Homo sapiens: one gene and its partners. The protein of the gene in region 3 purifies or fractionates together with the protein of the main gene of each other region. This does not show direct contact. Each region holds a gene or a part of one and is shown on either strand. Other genes may lie near its edges.

Region 1 (3,656 bases), on a different chromosome or scaffold from region 3:
ATCCAGTCCCAGCCGAAAGCCTCAAAGTCCACTGTGAGGGGATATCGGCAGCAGCGGGACTCGCTTGAGTGCTCGTCGCAGTCCAGACCCAGGTTCCGCCGGGAACGTTTTGTGTTCTCTAGGACTCGAAGCTCCATGAATGGATGCTGAGGGTCAGGGAGAGGGGAAAGAAATGTGATATGGTCCTGAACAGTTCCTCTTCCCTGTTCCTTTCCCACCTGCCAGGGGCATCAGAATAGAGACTGCTGACTTCTCAGCTTTTCCATTGCTCCCACCCCCAGAATTTATCTTTTGCCCACTTTTCTTGCCAGCTAGCTAGCTCTCCTTCAACTCACCATCTCTAATTCTTACTCTTCTGGCAACCTGATCCCTGTCAGCCCCTTGGCCCAACGCCTCAACAGCCAGTTTTTTTGTTCTCACAGCTCTTCCATTAACTGACACCTTTACCTTCAAATCCAGTTTTCAGCTGTTGTCTGATTTGGATCCTTGAGAAGTAATAGTTGCCACCCCACTCCTCACCTCCTCCTCTAGAATCAGCTGCTGACCCCAGAGAAGTAATGCTGGTCCCCAACCTCCTTCACATTCCTTGTCTACCTTTTCCAATGTAACCCTATCTCCTCAGGGCCAGGTTACACATATCCACCACCTCAGGCCCCCTGCTCACCAGCCCCTCGGCTCCCGGCCCCAGGGAGGTGACAGCCAGGTCTGTGCCACTGGGATCAAAGGCGTTGATCTCGATGCCCCAGTTGCTCTGTGGCTGGCGGAACCAGCTGTGTAGCACTTGCTTGAAGTCGATGCTCTGCCAATGGCCTGAGCGTGAGTGCAGCTCAATCTTCAGTGAGCGGATACGGATGTGACGCCGGCCTCCGCCCCCTCCCCCTGCGGTCCCTTCCCCAGTTAGGGGTTTTAGTCGCAAGATCTGCAGGTAGACTGTGGCTGGGCGGGGTACAGGCCGTAGGTACACCCACAGCTGGGCCTTCAGTACCTTTGTGAACATCACCTTGGGGCTGAAGTGAAAATGGCAGCAGAGAGGGCTGCCATCTGTCTGTACTGCTGGGTCCGCTGATAAGAGAGAAGGGCACAGCATCAGCAAAGGGTGTTTGTGTAGGGGATCAGTAGTCCTGGGTGGCACTGGCAATTTTGGACTTCTCAGCCTGATTTTCCAGTTCTTCTTTACCCTTCTCCCATGCCTATCTTATACCATGTCTCCGGTACCTAAAACAGCACTTCCTCTTTAGGATGATGGCCCTATAAGGCCTTACTGATCTGTGTCCATTTCCTAATCCATTTGCCCTAATATATAGGTTCCTGTCTACCAGATAACCTGCAAAATTATTCATCCACCACCATCCTTACTGTCCAACTTTTCCCAGCATATAAGGCTCCAACATTTTCTGAATCTTTGAAGCTCTTTATAGAAGCCATACCTCTTATCACACCTGCTGCCCTTCCATCACCTTTCCCCTATCTGCTCTGATTTATCTGCTGGACAGGTAGAGCCTGGCACATCCCTCCCCCACAAAATAACACAGATGGCCTCAGAGAGGGGATAACCCAGGGTCCAGATAGGGAGCATGAGCTAAATTTATCCCATTATGTAAACCAGAATTCAGATCTAGGCTTCTTGCCTCACTCCCATTAGGAATAACACCCAGCAAAATGGAACTATCCAAGCACTTCCTATACATCTGTCTCCCCATTCTCTCTTAAGAAGTTTCTTCAGCTGCTGCTCCATCATCATCACCATGACTGCCCCCAGCTCTTGAGGAAAGGAATAATTACCTCCATGGTGTTGCCTCCTATTTGCCTAAAGCACCAGAAATAATATTAAATACACCAGATTAACTACAATGCCTTTTTTCTCCCCTGAGCTTCCTTTGACTTCTCAGTCTAGTGCCAGTAGGTCTTTACAAAGTTTGAACATCCCAACTTTACATTTTGACCCATTTCCCCTTGCTCTGGACCTTAAATTGATCCTTCTTGGGTCTAATAGATGATTCTCAATAAATATCTGCCTCTGCCTCCATTCCAGCTCCTCTTCACTGCCTTTCCTAAGTCAGTTGGGAGTGTCCTACAACATGTCTCCATTGGACAGAATATGTCTATCCTGACTCTAGATAGGAAGAATCAGGAATGAGCTTCCAGAGCCATATAAGCAGGGTTAGGAAGTCTAGGCCTTTAAGTATCCTCCCCATGTCTTGAGTTCTGCAAAATCAGGATGGACTTAGGGTGTCCTGTCAGCTCTTCCCCACCCCCACCCTGGGAGAAAGAGGACCTTCTAAGGGAGATGAGGAGAAAGTGCTTAATGAACTTCATATATTCAGGATATGATACCCAAAGTCTCTATAGCTTTTTTTTTTCTTGATTATTCTCTGAGGTCCCAGGGCCCTGGTAGTCCAGTTATTTTACTGGCTGGAGCTTCAGTGATGGTGCAATGGAGTAGGGTTTGGGGGGTGAGAATTCAGAGATCAGAAGTAGCTGGGATAGGGAAGCTACTAGTGAGATGGGGAGTGACAAGCAACATCCCAAATAGCATACTTTACAAATTTCAGCATAAGAATTGTCTATTTTCTTGCCATTAGGTACTAATCTCCATGAGAGTGGACACTGTTGTTATTCATACTGTGTCTGTTTTGCTCACCATTGTAGCTTCAGTGCCTCCCATAGTGCTAGACAGCACTCAATAAATACATGGTGAATGAACTCCCTAAACTCCCAATCTTAAATTATACAGGCAAGTGCCTGAAAGTTCTTCCTGGCATCTAAATTCTGTTCTTTGGCTATAATTGAAGTGGGTTTAATCACTGCCTGATTCCTTACTAACCACTATCTAACCTTACTCACCAAACTTCTCAGTGTGATACAGATAATAATAATTCTTGCTTCACATGAGTGCTGAGCATTAACTAGAGAATGTGAAAATAGGAAACAAACAAACCAACATTTATTGAGAAGCTACTACTATTTTCGCATTCTCTACTAAGCTCTAAACATAACCCTCCCTCTACCTAAGCTGATCCAGGGTTTGAAGATGAGGGCTACATCTAAGTCTTTGGTTCCACATACTTGTCCCAGTGGACAGGGGACAGTCAGTGCTACAAGGAGGTAGAACATAGGGAGAAAGAAAAGAGCAGGGAGAAGAGCCAGGGGAGAGACTGGAGATGGTGAGGGAGATAATAGAGAAGAGACTGTTAAGAGTTGAAGGCATATTAGTAGATATAGGGAGAGAAATAGAAGTTAGAGTGGAAAGATGCAGGGGATAATCATGGCAAAGGGAGAATAAGTTTGAGAGTTTGAGAATCCTGATGCAGAGGCAGTGATAGAAAGGAGTGGGTGATGGTTAGAAAGCTAAAGGTGGGAGGAAGCTAAACCTAGTGGGGTAAAGGAGAGAAAGGATAGAAAGGGTACAGACTGAGGAACAAAGGAGAAGCAGGTAGAGCCACAGAGGGAAACGGGGCTCGAGAGAGTACCCAGCACACATATGCCGAGCTCTGATGGGGAGGAAAAGGGGCCACATCTGTGTTGAATTGATCGGGCTGGTGGCAGGCAGCAGGTCAGGTTTAGTAGGCGGCGCTGGTGGGAGAGAGAGGTCACTGCACTATTTTCAGCAAATGCCCAACCCCCTCCCTGCACACCACCTCCCCTTCCCCCCACCC
Region 2 (3,756 bases), on a different chromosome or scaffold from region 3:
TGTCTTGAGACGGAGTCTGGCTCTGTCGCCAAGCTGGAGTGCAGGGCACAATGTTGGCTTGCTGCAACCTCTGCCTCCCGGGTTCAAGCGATTCTCCTGCCTCAGCCTCCCGAGTAGCTGGGACTACAGGCAGGCACCACCACGCCCGGCTAATTTTTTGTATTTTAATAGAGACGGGGTTTCACCATGTTGGCCAGGATGGGCTCCATCTCCTGACCTCTTGGCCTCCTCAGCCTCCCAAAGTGCTGAGATTACAGGCATGAGCCGCCGCACCTGGCCAAGTTCACATTTTTAAAGACTCCATCTGATGCCTGACAAATTGGTATAATAATAGATTGACATTTGTTGTTTTACTCTAGGTCCAATTTAGAAAATGATTTCCATTTTCTCTCTTTCTGTCTCACTGAAGGCAACTGATCTGTCAATCAAAACTTTAGATTTATAATTTTTTCTGTAATAAAAGACGTGCTATTTACAGAGTTCTTGTGCAAAAGTAGTTTAAGTGAACCCAATTAATAATTCAAGAATGACTTTGTAAGTTTCTTCCTCTATTACATCTGAATTCATTTTACATTTTACATCTATTACATTTGAATTCATTTTAATGAAAAAGCCTTTCAAAGTTGTCTTTCCAAAGGGAAGATTAATACACTATTTCTTAGAGATACCATCTAAAAAAGTTAGTATCTTTCTTTCTTTTTTCTTTTTTGGAAACTCGCGGTGGTGGTAATGTGAGTGAGTTTGTCAATCTTTGCCCCTACTGTGAATTTGAGAAGCAGAGGAAGAGAAAAAGAGAAAGACCCCCCCGCCCCCTGCCTCCCACCTCCCGCCTCCGCCCCTCCCTCTAGCACACAGCAGGTGCGCAAGGAGTGCAGTGTTAGCTGCTGCTGGACTGAGCTCCTCATCCTACACTTGCAGGGGTTGCTCTTTTGGACAGAAAGCTGGAATAAAATGTAAATTTTAGACTTCCACCAAGGCCAGGACTAGGGTGAAGGGACTAACGCACTAGTCTCAGGAGCAACTGTTAAGTAACGCTAATCCTGAATGAATGAAATAGTTTTAAAATTGAATGTAATCGCAAAGAAAAAAAACCCATGATAGACAAAATATTAAAACTTTAAATAAAGGCTTGCACTTGCAGAACCCAGGCTCACCGGCCTCTCCCTGCTCCTGGCCCGGTTTCCCAGCTTGGTTCTCTACAAGTCAGAATTCCTAGCAAAATCAAAGTGTGCGCGCGTCTGCCCGAGTACACGCCGCAGAGTTATTTCTGCCCCATCTTCCCTATTTGAACTCAAACAGGACAGCATTTTCCTGGGTGCAGCCCCTGCGTTGGGTGAACAGCGCAGTGATAAAGCCTGGCGTTCTCCACCTGCAGGCGGAGGCTGACGGCGCGGTCTTTGGCGCGAGTCCGTGCACCGCGGCCGCCCCGCCCCGGTGGGAGAGAGGGACGGAGGAAGCTGCCGGTATAACGGGAGGAGAGCGCCAGGCGGAGCTGGGGCGTCCCTCCCGCTCGCTTCTTGACTCGCGTTGGTGCCGGCCGCCTCCCGCGCCTAGTGTCCGGGACGCGCCTGAACCTGCCGCCTCCGTGCCTGGGGCGGCGCCGCGCGGCCCCCAGGCTCCCGCGGGGCCGACCTCGGAGACGCAGCTGGGGCCGGGCGCGGCTTGGCGGGAGGGTCTGCAGCGCCGAGGGAGGCTGCCAGTGCGTGAGGAAGAGAGCTAGAGACTGGACAGGGGAGACAGAGCAGCGTCGGAGCCGCGCAGGGGACGGGAGTGAGAGCGGGAGTGAGAGCAGGAACGACGCAGAGCGGCCGTCGCCGTGCCCGGGTCTCAGGGCGCCTGGCTGAAGTGAGCATGGCTTCAGTGGCCTGGGCCGTCCTCAAGGTGCTGCTGCTTCTCCCCACTCAGACTTGGAGCCCCGTAGGAGCAGGAAATCCACGTAAGTACAGCAAATGGTTTAAAACTTGCGCTAGGCTGTCTGGAAAACTTTGTATTTTTTTATTATCGGTAATATTTGGAAGTGGAATTGCAGAACATGCTCCTGAACATGAAGAACCTTAAAAAAATATTTGGAATTGCAACCCGAAAAAGACGATTTTGTTTACAATAGACTTTCCTCTTGTGGGGGAGTCTAAGATATACCATGCATGTTTTGACTTTTTAATCGATGTTCTTGAATATTCATTGAGAAAGTGGCCGTTTCTGTAAAACCTGAAAAGAGCATCTTAATAAGAGATTAGCCTGCAAATGCTGTCATTTATTCCTTTTTAGGATTGTAATATTTTGTAGGAATTAAGTCTAACAGGGAAAAAACTGGCAGACATTACATCATACTGCATCAACTTAGATGTTAGCAGCTTACAGTTTTGCCGACCTTGGCAGCTTCAGAGTTAAAATGCTAATTAACTTCCACGCAGTATAGGGACAGAGTGCCTGTAGGCGAAACTAAATTAATAACCTGCCCTAACTACTAAGGGAATAACACTTGAACACCCCTGTCAGGGGCTTCGTTTCTCAGTAGAAAGTTCTTGGTTAAAGACAAAACTCAGCCAGTCATTTAGGTGATCTTGAAAATGATTCCTCTCTGGATGCTAATATTTTACATTATTTAATTTGCCATCGGGTTCCCTGTTTTTTATTTTACTTAATTTGGTAAACACCTAGGAAGCTTTTATTTCTAGAATGGGCTATGATTCTAATATAATGATGATATTCCAGACAGATGAGCAAAACATAATGTACCCATATTTTATCACACATAAAAATGTTTACACAACATTGCACATTTTTTTTTCGGCTTGGAGTAAATCTCTATCAGAGAGTCGTCTTTCTTTCTTGATTAATGAAACCATGAGATTAGAATTTTTAAAATGTCTTCCTCCTCCTTCTCAAATCACTTTTATTTTTCTTTCAGTGGCATCTCCCTGCTGTCAGCCTCAGCCCTCTCCTACCAAAATCTCTTTCGAAATAAGTTCCAATAAATGCTAGTGGCCATGTTTGGAAATTTAGATTATTGCAGGATAACCAAGGGTAGCTTTCAGCAGTTTTCCTAAGCTGTCATGAAAAGTTTGCCGTAGCTCAGTGCTGTTCTGCCTGTGGGCTCAAGGGTGGGTTGTTTCTTCACACACAGGGCACGCACATGGGTTCATGCACTCACTGTGCATCATGATTCAGTTGTGCCTCAGTTAATCCTACACTTGGTGTGCCCTTCGAAAAAACAAGCTCCGGATTGCTTTGGTCAGATGCTGTACCGTGTTTCAGATTCAACTTTAATCTGCTTTTGTGAGAGGGCTTTGTGAATAAAACGTTGTTACTTAAATTAAAATCCTTGGGTCTTGTAATGGAAACTGCCGTTTGGCTTAAATAAACACATAAATGAGTTACTTATAGAAAGGCATGCTAGAGTAATTGACCAATCAACTGGCAAAATACAACAAAATAAGTCACTAGAGGTCACTCTTACTATTGAATAAACAGGGCTTCAAAAAGACCTTCCTGGAGAAAAATGAAATCTGAGATCCTGCCACCACCTTTCCTGTTTTTGTTGCATAGTTGTGATTACTTTTTATTCTCAGGATTAGTTGTATTGATAGTTATTTTGCTTGGAATCCAGTGGAAGGATTACAAAGCCCATAGAAATTAAGCTCTTCTCATTTACAGTGAACATTCTTTTTGGAGGAGGGGAGGGCAGGGACAGATATTCCAAACGGACTCAGCACCAGACGGGACTCTCGCGAGTTGCTGAGTGACACGTAAAAT
Region 3 (2,729 bases):
ACTCATTTTGGTTATTTATAAAGTTGAGCTAATTTCAGACTAATTAAATCAGAAACTTAAGGAATTAAACATGCAAATATAGATTTCTAAGAATTTTAACAATATCCCAAATTATTCTTAGGTCAGCTAAAGTCTAAGAATGACAGTCCTATCTGGTGGTTGGGGAAAAATAAGTAAATAAAACAATGTGAACAAAATTAAATTAAATTAAATATACAGCATTCTACATAAATTAAAATGTATAGCATTCTACATAATTTAGTACTGCTTGCTTTAGATATCTCAAGTATATTTAGAATCCCCAACAGAAAGAGTAACCTAGGCAGAAATTAAGTTTTCAAAATTGTACCTTAGAACCATCCACACACTCACGCATTAAAATTAAAAAGAAAAGATTTAACAAAGGGAAAGGATAGTGGTTATGCTCTCTACTTTCTAAAGAGATGGTTAGAGGAAGCTAGAAAAGGATCTGGTAGTATTACCTTCTCTGAGGGAGATTTTGGGCTTTGAGCGGGCTGCCAATGAAAGCAGAAGAGAGTAGAGGTACCTCCAGGAGAGACCTGGTAGAAAGCCCTTTGAGGTCATCACCCCACACATTATCCTCTAGGCCTTAGTAACAAGCACCTGTAAGTTAGAGTGTGCTTATTCCACTTGCATCTTCCTGGCGAGATGGAGGTGTCGGACCCATCAGGCACCCCACAGTGGGGCTGGTGTAGCAGAGCATGCATCTGCATGTCAAGTAGGTCTGTCCCATTCCGATGGAATTGTTGCAGGAGCTGTGTTTGTGTCTCCTGGGTAAGGAGTGGCGACTCCTTCTTGGTCAGGAAAAATTGATGGAAATAGCCCTGAATCAGATCAAGAAGGATGAGTACTAAGAGTCAATAGGGAAGACCCATATATCAGTTACCCTGGGCATAGCCTTCTTTGAGGGTCTCAGAAGGACGGTACTTAGTCTGGCCTTCCTAAGTCTCCTGTTCTCAGTCAGATGATGGCAGCCATCCCTGATTCTTTATGCCACAGTGAAATGATATGAATGAGAAGTGACAGAATAAAAATAACATGGATAAACTATAACATTTTTTTAAAAGAAAAAGCTTCCAAGTTTTAGGATGGAGAAACCCAAGTATAAACGACAGGAAGATATTACCTGGGAATTCCCCGGGGAAGATGGCCTCTGGTCTTTCTGACTGATGGAGGTTTTCTTAATCAGGATACAATCAATCACTCCAGGACATAAAATTTGGCTGGTTCTGCATTCCCCATTTCATTTGCATTTACTTCCATTTCATTAAGTTACTTTTAAAGAGCCCGTTGTTTACCTATTCCTTGTCTCCACTGATTTTTCTGCCAGTCTAGTGTATTAAATGTAAACTTCTAAATACAAAAAAAGCACATTGTATTGTAATTAGGCTTTCTCTGTCTGTATTTGAATGCTAGCTGGACTCAAAATACTTTAAGGGCAATGCTCATGTCTGATACAGCTTGATCTATTATTCCACAGTTCTTATGAGTACTTGACGTAAACCTATTGACTGTTTTTTTTAAATTATATGACTGCATTTTTATGCCTTTGTTTTATTATCAGCTGAGCTGGGCACTAAGAGGCAAATGACTTATTGTATTGTTCTGGACTAAACATTAGCAGGAAATTTGACTAGGTTCCTATACAATTACAAAATACATGACTGCAACCAGTTATAACATTTTTTAGGTATTTTGGATGCTTAAAAGTTTGGAGCAAATTCATAATTTTTTTAGAAATTGAAAGTGTGTGGTAGACCGACTGGGAGATTACTCAGTCAATGTGAAGGTCCCATTAATTTATTTGAATGATTTCCCTTGATCTCTCACTCCAGTATATAGATCAGAGACCTATATACTGGAGTGTTCACTCTATGCCATATAGAAGACTAAGAAAGTGAGAGATGAGCAATGGGGCTGAATTAGGCACAGAAGGCACAGTGCCTAGGGCCCAAAAACACTTTTAGGGGCTACAAAAAATTAATTTTTTTCTTAAAATTAGAAGAGAAAAATGAACACATAGATAGAATAAAATGTTTTCATGTGTAATATTAATGTGTGTATTTATCATTATACCATGCAGTCACACATACACACACACACGAAATAAGAGCCCACAATGGTCACCATGTAATAATGTGGTCCTGAGTCGTTCACCTACCTCAACAAAGTCCCATCCTTTATGGTCTGCAGCAGGGGGCACTGGAACGGCGAAACACCAGGGCAAGAAGATAGTAACTCTTAAGATGACGAGCTGCATGCCAAACCCTCATTTGTCCCACTGCTTGAATTCAGGTACACAACTTGGGCCACTGGATCTTTATAGCTGTGCCAGCAACATCCAATGACTCACTCTGCCAGTTTGCCCTTTCTTTGAATCTGTGAGTGGCGTCATCATCCATACCTGCTGAGGGCAGAGTGACCAGCATGCAAGGGTGACAAAAGCAGCCATGGAATTTATTTTTAAGCTCAGTTCACACCTGATGGTCCTCAGCATCCCGGGCCACAGGCCTGGTTAAGGAAATACAGGTCAGTCTCAGAATATAGGGGGCATCATTTTTTAAAATAGGGGGGAAAACAAGAAACAGGAGGTGTGTCGAAACTCATTACAGCTTTATCTATAGAATAATTACCAGTCAGAGACATTCAATCTTGCTCCAGAAGCTAAAAAGAGAAAAAAGAATAAAATCAAGGGAAATAAATAATGT

Evidence for each region.
Region 1: the proteins of MMP26 (region 3) and GDF11 purify together in Homo sapiens (affinity purification with mass spectrometry; one large-scale study listed by BioGRID and IntAct). This does not show direct contact.
Region 2: the proteins of MMP26 (region 3) and CNTNAP3B purify together in Homo sapiens (affinity purification with mass spectrometry; 2 studies listed by BioGRID and IntAct, with this or other methods). This does not show direct contact.

The regions. Positions count from the first base shown.
Region 1 is NC_000012.12:55,745,992-55,749,647, reverse strand, and holds part of GDF11 (growth/differentiation factor 11 preproprotein), read right to left. Parts: intron 1,063-3,656; coding exon 665-1,062; intron 147-664; coding exon 1-146. UniProt on the Homo sapiens protein: Secreted signal that acts globally to regulate anterior/posterior axial patterning during development. May play critical roles in patterning both mesodermal and neural tissues. It is required for proper vertebral patterning and orofacial development.
Region 2 is NC_000009.12:42,127,190-42,130,945, reverse strand, and holds the start of CNTNAP3B (contactin-associated protein-like 3B precursor), read left to right. Parts: upstream 1-1,519; 5' UTR 1,520-1,851; coding exon 1,852-1,936; intron 1,937-3,756.
Region 3 is NC_000011.10:4,987,764-4,990,492, reverse strand, and holds part of MMP26 (matrix metalloproteinase-26 isoform 1 preproprotein), read right to left. Parts: intron 2,426-2,729; 5' UTR 2,282-2,425; coding exon 2,183-2,281; intron 1,375-2,182; exon of another isoform or gene 1,148-1,374; intron 846-1,147; coding exon 625-845; intron 1-624. UniProt on the Homo sapiens protein: May hydrolyze collagen type IV, fibronectin, fibrinogen, beta-casein, type I gelatin and alpha-1 proteinase inhibitor. Is also able to activate progelatinase B.